Regions from separate parts of the Homo sapiens genome. Here region 2 is linked to region 1. Evidence: fine-mapped expression QTL. Tissue or cell type: whole blood. Region 1 holds a variant in brackets; the other region holds the start of a gene. All regions are shown on one strand. Distances are between the middles of the regions.

Region 1 (8,104 bases):
CCCAGTAAAACTCTTCTTTTTACTCACTGTGCAAGGCACTTAATTTTGTTTTAAACCTATAATCCATATCCTATCATTTGGAGACATTTTCTTGAATAACTTATTTGATGATTTTTTTTCCTGCATTTTTTTTGGGGGGGGATCTTGTTTTATTTGGACCTTGTACCAAATGTCTTCTGTTTCCTTTTCTAGAACTTTCCCCCTCTCTGCCCTCCTTTTTTTTGGTGTCCTCTTCAATTTCCATCATCAGTGTTTTATAGTTTTTATTATAGAAATATTTCACTTCTTTGGTTAGTTAATTCCCTGGTGTTTAATTTTATTTGTGGCTGTTGTAATGGGATTACATTTTAAATTTATTTTTCCGATTGTTTGCTATTGGCAAATAGAAATCCTACTGATTTTTGCATGTTAATTTTGTATCTTGCAACTTTACTGATCAGTTTTAATAGTTTTCTCGTGGAGTTAATTATATTATCTCTGTATTTTTAGGTCTGTTGGAAAATTTAGATGATAAGTTTTTAAAAAGACTGAGGAATATCTGCTTTTGACAGTGGCAGACTAGGTTGTTTTAGGCTGAACTTCCAATGTGAACAAAAAACAATGGAATACACACACACCCACGTACACACATGCACACATGCACATGCACACACACTACATGCATGCACCCACACACACGCATGCACACATATGCATGCACACACACATACACGCATGTACACATGCACACACACACACACAGAGGGAAATCCAGAGAGGAGAGCCTGGCATCGGTCCCTCCTTTTACTTGGGGGTGATTTTAATTCAAAAGTAGGCTGGGTCCGGTGGCTCATGCCTGTAATCCCAGCACTCTGGGAGGCCGAGGCAGGCAGATCACCTGAGTTCAGGAGTTCGAGACCAGCCTGCCCAACATGGCAAAACCCCGCCTCTTCTAAAAATACAAAAAATTAGCTGGGCATCGTGGCGGGCGCCTGTAATCCCAGCTACTTGGGAGGCTGAGACAGGAGAATCACTTGAACCTGGGAGGTGGAGGTTGCGGTGAGCAGAGATCACACCAGTGCACTCCAGCTTGGGCGACAAGAGTGAAACTCCATCTCAAAAAACAAAAAAACAAAAAACCCCACAGAAGTAGTGGTTTGAAAGAGTGAAGCTGAGCAAAGATTTATCAGATGCTTGGGGCTGGAAGAGAAAAAATTAGATTTCAAGGCCCATCCAGGAGGGTCCTGGTAAGTATCCCAGACTTTCGTGGCGCCCTGAAGAACCACACTCCAGTAGCGAAGACTGAACAGAAATAACCCAGCTCTTAGAAAGAACCATGGCCACCACCAAATCTTTTAAGTCCTTGACTGGGTTAGGACCTGGGTTCCTAAACAAAACTCCAAGGCACCGCAGGACGCCCAGTGAGCTCACAGGGTGCAGTGGGATGTTTGAAAATTTTGAGGAGTCTGGCCTGGCGGCCTGCAGTCCCAGCCACGTGGGAGGTTGAGGTGGGAGGATCACTTGAGCCCCCAGGAATTTGAGGTCAGCCTGGGCTGCATAGCAACACCTTGTCTCTAAAAAAAATTTAATTTAATTTAAAAAATCTTTTTTTTTGAGGGAAGAACATTAACCTCTGTCAGACATAACATGAACTTCTTTTTTAAACTTATTATCTATTTATTTATTTGTGTTGATTTTTCATTATTTCTTCAGAACAGAATGAACTCCTATCTTGAGGTAGTTCCCAGTGTCAACTAAGATTGTGGGACTGTCCTCTGAATGACTTCGTGTCTTTGCAGAGCTTCGCTTCCAGCAGTCGCTGTGATAGAGACTTTGAGCTACGTGGAGATCCGTGTGGAGCTGGAAGTGAAGATGATGGCGTCCAATCCACCTCCAAGGCTTAAAAAGTTGTGCAGCGCCCAACGGACACCACATTCCATTGGGAAGTGATTATGGTAGTATGGTAGTTTAAGAATGAAACAAAATATTTTTAATTTATGGGGATCATTTTTTGAATGTCTACTAAGTTGTTAGAATATGAATACTTCAGTTGTTTGTACTTAACTGTCTAATACATGGAACCTCTATCTATTTCTTTTGGCCTAGGAGGGCCGTGAAAAAATTAGGGGGACACTCAAGGTGTTGTCACTGGAGACAGTTTGGGAGCCCCTGGATTATGATGATCAGAGATTGCTTGCTACCTTCTAGCAGCAAAAAGAAATCCTGCTGGGCATGGTGGCTCACGCCTATAGTCCCAGCACTTTGGGAGGCTGAGGCCAGTGGATCACTTGAGGTCAGGAGTTGGAGACCAGCCTGGCCAACATGGTGAAACCCCATCTCTACTAAAAATACAAAAATTAGCTGGATGTGGTGGCTTGTGCCTGTAATCCCAGCTACTGGGGAGGCTGAGGCAGGAGAATGGCTTGAACTCAGGAGTTGGAGGTTGCAGTGAGCCGAGATCACACCACTGCACTCCAGCCTGGGCAACAGAGCAAGACTCCGTCTCAAAAAAAAAAATTCCTTTCTGGATAAAAATAACAGTTCAGAGTCTCAAATTATCTCTATCATTTTCCACACACAGTGCTTGGCAGTCAATAAATGGGCTCTGGAGTAAGAAAAAGACAAGACAGGGGTGAAAACCTGGGAGAAAAATCAGACAATCAGACAATAGAAACAGACCCACGAGGATCCTGATCATGGAATTATCCATGATGAATGCGATCAAGGATGAAAAGGCAAGATTAAGAATTTTTGGCAGAGAACTGGAAAGTATAAAAAAAGAACCAAGTGGAAATTCTGTGAAAAGTGAAAAGTACAGAAACTGAAAATACCGCTGGTGGGTCTGATAGCAGGAAATGTACAAATGAAAGGCATAGAAGAAAATAGTCTGGACAGAAGCACAGAGAGACAAGAGGGGGGAATCGCAGGGTAGAGTTTAAAGAAAATATGGGATAGAATGAAAAGAGCAAACATACCTATAATTGGGGTCACAAAACAGGAGGAGAAAAAATGTGGCAGAAGCAATATTTAAAAACTGAGAGTTCACCAACACTGACAAAAGGCATTCAGGTGTAGATATAATCATCCTTACAAACTCCGCCAGGGAACCTCCTGAGAAAAGAAGCCCCTGCCGTTACTGAGGTGATGGTTATGATCCATTATATTCTCCCTCCCCACACCTGCGCCCTGTGCTTTTGTTGCCCTTAGTACACTTTGCCCTTTTTTTTCTTTTTTTTTTGATGGAGACTCACTCTGTTGCCCAGGCTGGAGTGCAGGAGCGATCTCGGCTCACTGCAACCTCTGCCTCCCGGGTTCAAGCAATTCCCCTGCTTCAGCCTCCCAAGTAGCTGGGACTACAGGCACACGCCGCCACGCCTGGCTAATTTTTTGTATTTTAGTAGAGATAGGGTTTCACCATGTTGGCCAGGATGGTCTCGATTTCCTGACCTTGTGATCTGCCCGCCTCAGCCTCCCAAAGTGCTGGGATTATGGGCGTGAGACACCACGCTTGGCCACTTTGTCCTCATATTTATTTATTTTTTGTACTTCTTAAAAATTTTTTTAATTAAAAAAAAAATAGAGACAGGGTCTTTCTATGTTGCCCAGACTAGTTTTGAACTCCTGGGCTCAAGTGATCCTCCTGCCTTGGCATCCCAAAGTGCTGGGACTACAGACATGAGCCTGTCCTCATATTTACTGATGAGTGTATTAGTGCTATAATGATATGTAGCAAATAACTCCAAAACATATTGGCTTAAAACCACATAATTACTTATCATGTGCCATGGTGTCCTTGGTTTAGGTGTCAGGAGAGGTTTAGCTGGGTGGTTCTGGCCTCTCAGGAGGCTGCAGCTGGGCCAGCTGTCAACCAGGGAGGCGGTTCACTGAAGGCTGAGCTGGGCCTTGTAGGTCCTCTTCCAAGGTGGCAAGTTGGTGCTGGCGATCGACAGGAGGCCTCAGTTTCCCTTC[G/A]CAAGGGTCTTGCCATGGGGCTGCTTGCATGTCTTCGTGGTGTGGCAGCCAGCTTCCTCCAGAACGAGTGAGCCTGGAGTCAGAGGCAGAGGCCAGGATGCCTTTGTGACCTTGATGTGAAGGTCACACACTAGCATGTCTACCGAGTTGTGTTGGTCACATAGGTCAGTCTTTTTTTTGAGACGGTCTTGCTTGATTGCCCAGGCTAGAGTGCAGCTAGATCAGCTAGGGGCTTGATCATGGCTCACTGCAGCCTTGACCTCTCAGGCTCAAGGGATCCTCCCGTCTCAGTCTTCCAAGTAACTGGGACCACAGGCATGCGCCACCATGCTTGGCTACTTAATTTTTTTTTTTTTTTTTAGAGATAGGGTCTTGCTCTATGGCCCAGGCTGGCTTTGAATTTATTTTTATATTATTGTGGTAAAATATATATCACAAACCATGCCATGCTAATCCTTTTCAGATGTGCAATTCAGTGGTGTGAATTATATTCACAATGTACAACCATCACTACATCTACTTCCAAAACCTTCCCACCACTCCATGTAGAAACTCTGTATCCATTAATCAATAACTCCCATTCCCCCATCTCTCCCCATCCCTGGTAGCCCCTAATCTGCTTTCTGTCTCTGTGAATTCTGCCTATTCTAGGAACCTCATTTAAGTAGAATCCTGTGGTTTTTGTCCTTTAGTGCCTGTGTTATTTCACTCAACATAATGTTTCCGAAGTTCCTCCATGTTGTAACATGTGTCAGCATTTTGTTCCTTTTCATAGCTGAGTGCTATTCCATTGTATGGACATACCACATCTCCTCCATCCATTCATCGGTTGATAGGCCAGCCCCACATCAACAAGAGATGCAACTCCATGGGGTTGTGAACATCACCAGGATGTGGGGCTCACTGGGGGCCATCCTAGGGGACGGCTGCCCTAGTAGATTTTGTGTTCAAAGCCAAGTCTCCACTAGAATTTCACCTTCACGGGGTCAAGAACCCAGTCTGCATTTTTACCCCAGTTCGCAGCAGAGGGCCTGACATGAAGCAGATGTGCAGTTGAGGAGGCAGCCCACTCACTGGGGAGCTGCAGAGGGAGACGGTGCTGGTTGCTGGGGTCCAGGAAGCTTCTGGAATGAAGGAACAACAGAACTAGGTAAATTTGACTTGAGTGACAATTTGACTTTTGGGGACAAGATGAGAATGTGACCAAAGTCAGCATATGTAGAGATGGAAAGGACCCCAGAGATCATCCAGGCCAACACCCTTGTTACGTTTCAGGTAAAGAGGTGCGTCCATTTCCTGGGGCTGCCGTGGCAAAGTGCCGCTCACCGGGTGGCTTCGTGCACTTGAAATGTGCTCTCACACAGCTCTGGAGGCCAGAGGCCTGAGATCAAGGTGTTGGCAGGGTTGCTTCCTTCTACAGCCACCCAGGCTACGGCTGGGCCAGCTGTCAGCCAGGGAGGCGGCCACCTGAAGGCTGAGCTGGGCCTGGTGTGTCCTCTTCCAAGGTGGCAAGTGGTGCTGGGATTATCTAGCCCAGGCCTCCCTCCCGGCTTCTGGTGGCCTGATGGGCATCTTCCATGTTCCTTGGCCTGTGGAAACATCACTCCAGTCTCTGCCTCCACCGTCACATGTGTCTCTTCATCTCTCTTATAAGGACACTAGTCATATTGGGTTAGAGGTCCACACTGCTCCAGTATGACCTCATCTTAATTTAACTAATTACATCTGCAACAACTCTATATTTTCCGTTTTTTTTTTTTTTTTTTTTTTTTTTTTTGAGACAGAGTCTCATTCTTTCACCTAGGCCGGAGTGCAGTGGTACAATCTTGGCTCACTGCAACCTCCGCCTCCTGGGTTCAAGCAATTCTCGTGCCTCAGCATCCTGAATAGCTGGGACTATAGGCGTGCACCACCATGCCCGGCTAATTTTTATACTTTTTAGTAGAGTTGGGGTTTCACCATGTTGGCCAGGATGGTCTTGAATTACTGGCCTCAATTGATCTGCCTGCCTCAGTCTCCCAAAGTGCTAGGATTACAGGTGTGAGCCACCGCCTGTATTTTCCCCTTCCTCACTCCCTTCTTTCCTTCCTTCCTTCCTTTCTCTCCCTCTTTCTCTCTCTCTCTCCCTCTCCCTCTCCCTCTCTCTCTCTCTCTCTCCTTTCTTTGATGGAGTCTTGCTCTGTCACCCAGGCTGGAGTGCAATGGTGTGATCTTGGCTCACTGCCACCTCCGCCTCCTGGGTTCAAGTGATTCTCCTACCTCAGCCTCCTGATAGCTGGGATTACAGGCACCTGCTACCACACACAGCTAATTTTTGTAGTTTTAGTAGAGATAGGGTTTCACCATGTTGGCCAGGCTGGTCTTGAACTCCTGACCTTAGGTGATCCGCCCGCCTTCGCCTCCCAAAGTGCTGGGATTACAGGTATGAGCCACCATGCCTGGTCTATATTTTCAAAGAAGGTCACATTCTGAGGTACTGGGGGGTAGGACTTCAACATATCTTTTTTTGGGGGAAACACAGTTCAAGCCATAAGAAAGAGAATGTGCCCTGTTTAAATCTCACAGCTAATTCATCAGGTCTTTGGAAGACCCAGGACTCACTTCTGTCTGCCTCTGATGTCTAATTAATACCAAATTCTCTTCCTTATTCATGAAATTCTAGCAGGGTCTGGCTTCTCTGCCATTCCTGTGTACCTATTATTCAGAAAAAGTAAGGCTCGCGTGGCAGATGGAAAGAAAGATCAGCCAGTTGTCACTGTAGTGTGTTGTTTTCTGCAAGACAGCCATAGGTGCCACAAACAAGGAGACAAAACAGTTGCTTAAGAAAAATGCAGCTCTGACAGCCCTGCCAACGAGCCCTCTGGCTTTACGTAGACATTTCCACTCCATGGCACCCGGAGAGTGTTAATGGATCTGTGTGTTGCTGCGCTGAACCCTGGCAAGGGCGACGGTTTCTCAGACAAAGAAGGTGGCTGCAGTGTCAGCCAAGAGATTGCAAATCTGCAAAGTCGGAAATGCTGAAGGATGCTGGGTCAGCCATCCCGAGAGATGCGTGTCCACACGGCAGGTGGCTGGATGTGGGGTCAGGGCAGGCTCACAGCCTGACCAGGAGAGTTTGTTTCTTGTTTGAGCCAGACGGTAGGGTTACTTAGATGTCTGCTCTGCACTGGGCGTTTGTGTGACAGGGACGAGGGGCAGGCTGGCTTCAGGAACATGTGACTGTGCAGTCACAGCCACACAGGGACTGGTGCGTGGAAGGGCCCTGAGCTGGCTTTGATCCTCTGCTGTCACTGTCTTCATGATATTCGAAGAAGGGGCTTGCATTTTCATTTTGTACTTGGCCCTGCAAATTATATAGTAGGTCCTGACAAGGCCTCTGTCTTGGTTTCCTGTCCTCATTGCTTGATTATTTGTGAGGCAGGCGGTGCCTCTGACAGTCTTAAGCCCATGCTTTGATGTCTCAGAGAACCCATAGCCAGAGGAAGACACGAGGCTGGAGGTCAGGACCCCCATAGGCTTGAGTTTCAACATTGCCAGCAACTTTAGTAGCTACAAGATCTTGGGCAGGGCATTTAGCCTGTGTGGGACTCAGTTTCTTCATCTGTAAAAAGGACATGCTAATAACAGCCCTACCAAACTCACAGAATTGCTATGAGAGTTACTTCTTGAGAGTAAGGACTCAACTTCTCCATTTTGTACCTGTGTGAAATTCCGCCCAGCATCCTGCATTTAGGAACAGTGCCTACTTGATGATTTAAAACATGAGATAATGGGGGAAACCTCTCAGGCAAAGCATCAGAAATGATGGACTGGCATTATGTTTTCTCATAACACGCTGACGTCTTGTGCAAATCTGCCATCTGGACACTGCTGCTAAGAGGGAGACAGAGCCTGCTCACTTTGGGACATGTCCTTGAAAGCGTCCCGCTGTGGGTACATGGAACGCTGAGACATCCTACATGAGCGCTCTCCTCTGTCGCTGAACTTTAACTATCCAGCCCATCCCTTGGAGTGGCATCATGTTTGTCATAGCAGTGACCACCTTTGTGAATGCAAACCATGTGTGAGAGTTTATTTCATTCTCATCACAGCCCTATTATTCTTACTCCATTTGACAGATGAGGCTCTGTCTCAGGGGACCTGTTCCCATCCCACA
Region 2 (8,104 bases), 350 kb before region 1:
TCATTTTCTTCTTCAGTTTTTTCGCAGCCTATTTTATTTCATAAACCTGTTTTTCCTCTGTGGCTTCCTCCACTGCTCTTATACTTAGGAAGTGTTTTTTCCTTATGCTAAATTTGATAAAAATTTATCTTTTTAAAAAATTCTGTTTTGAGTTTTCTTATGGTTTTTGGTACAAGATAGAAAGTGAAGATTAATTTCTTCCCAAATATAATGGTTAGTGTGCAGTCTCCACCGATACCTGTCATCTACGTAATCTTTCTCCTAGAGAGCAAGAATTCCTCTTACTGCAGTTGGTGTTCCTTCATGTCCAGCCTCAACTCAGAGGTCTCCTACGGTGTGCCCGTGAATAGCAGACCACAGCACTTCTGTGACACAAGTAGGGTAACAAAAGAAATCTCTGGAAGGTGACTACCTAACTTCCCAAAACAAAGGCTGATTTTTCTCGTCGATAGCACGCAGAAGGCTTTTTTCAAGAGTAGAAGGGGAAGAAAGGCCTCTTACATGGCTAGCTTTCCTCTAGTCACAGCAGCAATTCTTCAGCAGTCAAGGAGAGACCATCTCCTTTTCCAAACCCACGTTCACCATTGCCCAGGATTCAAGCCTAACTGAGGTCAGGGTGGCTGCTGCCCTGACATATCCCTCCCTAAGACACGCCACCAGCTGCCATCAGTGTGATGCAAGCCACAAGGTATCCTTAAGCTTTCTGCTGCCAAATGCATCAACTAAAGAGAACACATTACAAACTTAGCATAGCACTAACAGACTCTAGAAAATATTTAACTGTTTGCAAGATTAGGACTGCCAGCAACCAAGGTATGTAGAAACTGAGTCAAGAATAAAATCCACCAGTGTTAAAGCCAGGAATACATATAAACAACATAAGTTTGGCAAAACTGTATCTATTGGGAGAAAGTAAACAGTTGAAAAAAGTATATTAAATGCAAGTTTGCTGTAACATAAAAATGATTAAAAGTGAGCTAGAAGAACATCAAAAATGCTTTTACCTTTTAGTGCACTGTCATTGGCCCCAAAGAAAATTGTAACTGCTACTGGGATGTCCAAACTGTTTCCTTTCCTGATTAATCTTGGAAGGATAATTTTGGCCCACCTGGTATTGTAACCTGAAAATCCACGATTCAGAACATCACATTTTCTGAAACGAAAAATTTTAAAAAGATGAATTGTGGGCAAGAAGTGTTTATGGTCGCAGTAACCGGCCTTTAGTGAGGGTGTGCTCTCTGGGATTCTAAACCCGTCACGTGTCTCTGAGCCACCCCCAGGTTTCACTTTGATAGGAGCAAGAACATAGCTGAAGCATGCTAATCTTAAGCCATTCAAAGATACAGGTAAATACACCATACTCCTCCGTGAGAGAAGTAATTATATATAAAGGGGCTGTGATGAAGTCTACAGACTACCTGACTTCAAGCATGGTATAGTGAGGTGCTTTTAAAATGGAGTTCACAACAGATAGATAATCTGAGCAAGTATCTCAGGTAAAAAGTCACTAATATCCTGGAACTTAAATAGTTTAGTTTGGTTTATATTTAAACAGTCTATAGAATATTTGAGATTTCTGGTTTTGATTAAATAGTTTTAGTAAATACATTCGTTGTGTTTCAACTTAAACCGGTTAATACTTTTTGTTTCCTTCTTAAAAACAGTTGGATTCACAGTACTGTAGGTGTAATGGGGGAAAAAAAAAAAAAAGCCGGGTTGCCTGGATTTGTTTCTCGGCTCCCTGTGTGACTAGGCGTGACCCTGGGCACGCTGTGCTCCTTCCTCACATGTAAAGTGAGGAGAATCCCAGTTAAGGATTCGCATCAGGCAGTAGGTTTGAAACCCCTCAGAGAATACCAGTCACATAAGAGGGACTCTTTTTTTCTTAGTCTTGGTAAAATGATATGATTTGGGATTTGCTTCAGAATAATCCATAGGAGGGATGGATGGGCTCATTTCACTCTTTGCTTCTGTAGATATTTAAAGTTGTCCATAAAGTTTTCTTAAAATGACGCCTGGGGTTCAACTTATGATTAGTAAATCAATATGGTTCATTTTGCTGTATTCACATTCCCATACATGCATAACCAAGCAGAGAAGCTGGGGCACCCGCGGAGAACTGCAGGCCACAGCGTCAGGCAGCGGCTCCAAAGCAGCACAAGGGGACACTTTCTGACACTGCTCAAAGTTCTCAGGTGGCATTTATAAACTGCAGAACCACCACCGAAACTCAGCCTTATTTCTAAGAGATTGTTTGTGTGTGTAATGATTATAAAATGCGACTAGCCATTTTACAGAGTGAAATCACAATACTTTAATGAAGTGCTGGGCTGGGTGTGGTAGCGAGTGCCTGTTGGTCCCAGCTACTCAGGAGGCTGAGGTGATGATGCCTTCAGCCCCAGAGGTGGAGGCTGCAGTGAGCCCTGATCACACTGCTGCACTCAAGCCTGTGTGACAGAGTTGTCAGGCCTCTGAGCCCAAGCTAAGCCGTCATAACCTGTTACCTGCACGTATACATCCAGGTGGCCTGGAGCAACTGAAGAACCACAAAAGGAGTGAAACAGCCAGTTCCTGCCTTAACTGATGACATTCCACCATTGTGATTTGTTCCTGCCCCACCCTAACTAATCAATCGACCTTGTGGCATTCCTCCCCTGGACAATGAGTCTCAGGAGCTCCCCACAGAGCACCTTGTGACCCCCTTCCCCTGCTAACAATAGATAACCACCTTTAACTGTAATTTTCCACTACCTACCCAAATCCTATAGTACTGCCCTACCCATCTCCCTTTGCTCTTTTCAGACTCAGCCCACTTGCACCCAAGTGAATAAACAGCCTTGTTGCTCACACAAAGCCTGTTTGGTGGTCTCTTCACGTGGACGCGCCTAACAAGAGACCCTGTCGCAAAACAAAAACCACCAAAAACCAAAACAAAGTGCGGTAGAATTGTGACAAGGTGAGTCTTAAGTCATGGCAGCACTTCAAAAAAAGGCAAAGTAGCTTCCTACCAGTGTGGTGTAGCAGTGAAACTGCAAGTTCTGCAGTCATAGCAGCTGGACTTGGATCTGTCTGCCCCTGACTAGGGAAGAGGCCTTGGCCATTTCCTTGATTTGTCTGAGTCTACCCAGCCATCAGTGCTCAACCCTAAAATATCTAATTGGTCAGACTGAGTGAAGAGTAAATGTTTTCTGTTCCTTCTCCTATATACTGATTAGGGGAGGCAAGCAAAATTAATAAAGGAGGAATGTTCTGTTCAGAACTATCCTTCATCCATAAGACGGATCCCTAAGACATTTTCCATCCATAAGAACTCAAGTATCGGAAACCATTCTCACCTGACCAGCCTGTCAGCCAGCGATGCTCCCCATCCACCCTGCTGGAAGGAAAACTGGAGGAAGAAAAGCCCATTATTACTACTAATGACTGTAACCGGGCATCTCAGCGAGGGCAGTTCTGATTGGCAACTTCTGTTTTCTCGGCGCTCCCTTCTTGGCTTTGATTGCTTCACTCCAGGAGGTCATTTTGGGGATTACAGGTAAGTACACCTGGCAGCACTTTAGCAGAGGGGGATTTTTCTCTATCAAAAGCTAAACAGCCTGTATTCCCAGCACTTTGGGAGGCCAAGGCGGGCGGATCACATGAGGTCTCGAGTTCGAGACCAGCCTGGTCAACATGGCGAAACCCCGTCTCTACTAAAATTACAAAAATTAGCCCGGTGTGGTGGCGCACGTCTATAATCCCAGCTACTCGGGAGGCTGAGGCAGGAGAAACGCTTGAATCCGGGAGGCGGAGCTTGCAGTGAGCCGAGATCGCGCTACTGCACTCCAGTCTGGGCGACAGAGCGAGACTCCGTCTCAAAAAAAGAAAAAAAGAAAAAAAAAAAAAAGCTAAACAGAAATCTAAGTTCAGGAAATAAAGTCAAAGGTCAGTGAGGAAATGAAGGCCACACCGCCTCACTGCTTTGCTGGTTACCGAGCTGAGGGTGAACACTTTTTCATACACATTCCCATGGAATTCGGCAGCTCTGACTGCCCCATATGCCTAAACATAATGTTACCAGTTACTGGCGTATACACAAAAGCCTGGTGAAGCAAGTCCTGTCTGAGAAGAGGACACACACAGGAATGGAATTTCTACTCCCTCCCCGAAGTAAGAACCTGCATTTAGAAGACCGTTCCCTTCATGGGAGGTGAGATGATCTTGGATGAACGGATGGTCCTTTTCTACCTAATTCCTGAAGGCGTTTTACTTCCAAGGTCAACCCCTAACGGCCCCACCTGTGCCCGCAGGGAATGGGGCGAGAGAGCTCCTGGCGCCTCTGCCCGGAGCTGGCCGCGGGGCCTCCTGGGACACAGCGCGCGGTCGCCCGCGGCCGCTAACCCGGACCCGGAGGGGAAAGGCCGCTGCCCAGGAGGGCGCTGAGGGGAAGACCGCGCATCTCGACCCGGGTGGGAGGCGGCGCGGGGCGGGCAGCGCGGCCGGGTCCCCTCGCGTCTGTGCCTGGAGCCCGGGCTCTCGCGGACGCCGTCGTGACCTCCGGGACGCCGCGGGCCCGGAAGGCGCAGCCACTGGGGGACCCGCCACTCCTCCGGTGTCTCCACGGGCGTGGCCAGGCCTCCGGCCCAGCCGTCTCGGGCGCCGAAGAGGACGGCGAGGAGCCTCGGCCTGCTCGGCAGCGACCCCGCAGGGAGGCCGGGGCGGGAGGCCGAGCGTCGGGGCGGCCGTACCTGGGTGATGGAGTCCCCGAAGAGCAACAAGCGAGGCCAGAGCAGGGCACTCCCGCAGCCCGCGGCCTCGCACAGCGCCATGGAGCAGCCGGGCGGGGCGGGGCGGGGCCGCCAGCCACGAGAGGCGCCTGCGCAGTGGCCGCCCGTGGGTTGCGGGAGCCGGGCTCGTGGGCACCCACGCAGTCACTTTGGTGACGCGCGAAGGTCGTTGCCCCTTGGAGTCCGTTTGCAAGAAGCTCGGCCTCCGCGCTTGCTCACCCACAGCAAGGCTGCCCCCAGGGAGTCCGGAGCCCGCGTCCCGCTGCGTGGTTCCCGGAAGAAAAGCGGTTGGGGGCCCTTCTAAGCCCACCCCGCGCTCCGCGGGCGCAGGTGCGTTCGGCAAAGGGCAGGAGTGTGACCTCAGGACGCGCGGCGGGAAGCACAGCTGGCTCTCGGTGGGGCGGAGGGCTGCTCCAGGCCCCCCTGGAAGAGGTCGTGGGATGCGCGCGCGGCCTCCTGCGCCCAGCGTCACTCTGGAGGGCCTGTAACACCCACGAGGACGCAGGCACTGCGGAAACCCTGGCAGTACCTCGTGGTTCTGCGAATGACAAGGGAAAGCAGCTGCACCTTCAGTGCGCGCGCAGCCGGCCGCTTTTCTTTTTCCCGCCGTGGGGTGGATGCGCAGATGCAGAACCCCGCGGACACGGAGCACTGACTAACTTCCAAGGGATTCACCTGTTAAAACGTGGTTGTAATGCAACGTTCTTACCTCAACTGTGCAATGAAGTTCGGCAGCCGAGCTAAAAACGAACGGGTGGGAAGGATGCCTTGAAATCACGGAGCTGTAGATGAGTAACAGAAGGGCCAGGGGCGCCGGCGCAGAGGCCGACCCCGCTCCCTGGGGCGGGGCGATGGGCGTAGAGCATGACTTTCTTTAGGTTGCTCGTCCCAAGCTCGCTTGGATCACCTGGGGGAGCTTTACAACTAAGATCCAACCTAGGGCCCTCATTCCAGCCGGACTAACTCACCTCCTGGTGGCAGGACTTGGGCACAGGTGCACTTGTGATGCACCCCACGTGATTCCCACGGGTAGCCCAGATTGAGAGCCCCTGCTAGAGCAAGCAAAGGTGCCTGGACTTCATCTTTATCACAAGGACTTCATTAAGGCCTTCAAGCAGCAGAGGCTTGAGGCCAGGTCTGTTCCAGGAATCAGCTATAGGGGAGGAGATGGAGGTGGTTGCAGGAATTCAGAGGGGAGAGTAGACTTGGACTCGAACAGCAGCAGTGGAGATGAAGACAGAAAAGATTCAAGTGCAACTTAGAATCCTTATTATTAACTCAAATTGGTTACCCCAGAGGAGAGGGTAACCAGCAGCGGTTGCTATCGGCAGATCTTGATGGTTTCAATGGGAGCTGCACATACATGCCTGGAAGAAGAATCCAAAATTCTAAAATAATGGGCAGTTGATCTAGTAGTTAGTTCTAGAATAATGGACAAATTAATTAGCAATTTAGCAGTATTCAGGCTGTTGAAATAAAGGCCATTTGACATTAAAAGTAAACAGGCTCCCCCAGAGAAACGAATGCATTTTATTTTAGGTAACAAAAGTAGAGTCAAGTATTTTTTCAAAGTTCATATACAGGCACAGTCTCAGTGAACTGGCGTCAGGGCCTCGTACAGTCTCTGTGCAGCCAGCTCCACCATTTCTCGGAGGGATTCATCGTCTTCACTTCCCTCTTCACATTCTACAGTCTGAAAGTGAGGCACAAACAAGACTGTTAGAATTAAGTCTATAATGATTATATAGAAGATAAATGAATACTCTTTAAAAAAACCATCATCTCATAAAAAATTAGCCAGCTGTGGTGGCGTGTGCCTGTGGTCCCAGATAAGAGTCTGAGGTGGGAGGATCACTGAGCCGGGAAGGTTGAGGCTGCAGTGAGCTGTGACTGCACCACTGCACTCCAGCCTGGGCGGCACTGCGAGACCGGGTCTCAAACTAAAAAAAAGAACAATCATCTGTGTGTGCAGAGGTCATGGTGGGACTGATTACCATGAAACAGAACGGCCGCCCTACACACTTGTGGGCGTGCAGTGCTTCCTGACAGCAGCACGGTCCTAATTAGTGATGACTTGAGGCTGGGGTGAAAGACTGGGGAAAGTCTAGTAAACTACATTTACATCAAAGCCCACAGTTTGATCTAGTAAATGATACTCCAGGGAAGTTCATCTATGCCACACAAATTACTTGGCAAGGAATGGATGTGGCTATCTACTCAACATTTGGTACTGAATTTGACTGAAACTCACTAATAATCTTCTAGTTGCTTCTTTTTTTTTTTTTTTTTGAGACAGAATCTCGCTCTGTCGCCCAGGCTGGAGTGCAGTGATGTGATCTCAGCTCACTGCAACCTCTGTCTCTTGGGTTAAGGTGATTCCTGGGTTCTCCTGCCTTAGCCTCCCAAGTAGCTGGGATTACAGGCACACCACCACGCCTGGGTAATTTTTGTATTTTTAGTAGAGATGGGGTTTCATCATGTTGGCCAGGCTGGTCTCAAACTCTTGACCTCAGATGATCCACCCACCTTGACCTCCCAAAGTGTTGGGATTACAGGCGTGAACCACCACGCCTGGCCTCTAGTTCTTTTTTTTTTTTTTTTTGGAGACAGAGTCTCGCTCTATCATCCAGGCTGGAGTGCAGTAATGTGATCTTGGCTCACTGCAACCTCTGCCTCCCTGTTTCAAGCAATTCTCCTGCCTCAGCCTCCTGAGTAGCTGGGACTACAGGCAGCTGCCGCCATTCCCGGCTAATTTTTTTTGTATTTTTTAGTAGAGATGGGGTTTAACTGTGTTGCCCGGGCTGGTTTTGAACTGTTTGGAAAATCCACTTGGATCTTGCTGGTGCAAACAGAAGAGCGGCTTCTTTAAAAAATGGAGAGTCAACTAGATGCCAAACTAGAGAAGGGATGAGGTGAACTAAGCTGTATTATGGAAGAGGACAGCAATGGAGTGGCATACACGCGAACCTTGTACTATGCAGTAACCCGGAAAAACACGGAAAACTTCAACCATAATAATATAAAAAGAACAATGTGAAAAAAATGTTGGAAACACTGGAAGCAAATGCCAATATGCAACAGTAGACTGTTGAGTGTGAGAGCACAGATTATTTATGCCTTCACTTTATTTCCCAAATGTCTTGAAACGTAGGAAAGAGCAGCTACATACCCGTGTCTCCAAGTTAAGGTTGGCAGTTTTCCCGTCCACTGTGACGCTAAGAATAGAGTCATCCTTTACACTTACACAGTCTTCTCCAAATATGTCCCTGAAAATAAGCAGAAATGCAGGATTAGTGAAAATGCCCGGCTTTATATATTTGAGGAAAAAATAAAACTGA

Evidence for each region. PIP is the estimated chance that this variant, and not a neighbour inherited with it, causes the effect.
Region 2: IAH1 starts here. The variant in region 1 is fine-mapped to the expression of IAH1 in whole blood (TOPMed, PIP 0.91).

The regions. Positions count from the first base shown.
Region 1 is chr2:9,123,361-9,131,464 of GRCh38, reverse strand. LOC105373415 (a long non-coding RNA gene) reads left to right here and starts at 4,322. Exons shown (of 4, transcript XR_922770.1): 1 at 4,322-5,098. RefSeq lists a silencer at 1,798-1,958. The variant G/A (reference allele first, on the strand shown) is at 3,949.
Region 2 is chr2:9,471,271-9,479,374 of GRCh38, reverse strand. It overlaps IAH1 (isoamyl acetate hydrolyzing esterase 1 (putative)), which reads right to left and starts at 4,824. Exons shown (of 6, transcript NM_001039613.3): 1 at 4,728-4,824; 2 at 3,336-3,388; 3 at 1,005-1,153. The coding sequence starts at 4,808. It overlaps CPSF3 (cleavage and polyadenylation specific factor 3), which reads right to left. Exons shown (of 18, transcript NM_016207.4): 17 at 7,936-8,032; 18 at 6,274-6,459. The coding sequence ends at 6,358. RefSeq lists enhancers at 3,205-3,765, 4,246-5,013 and a silencer at 4,283-5,052.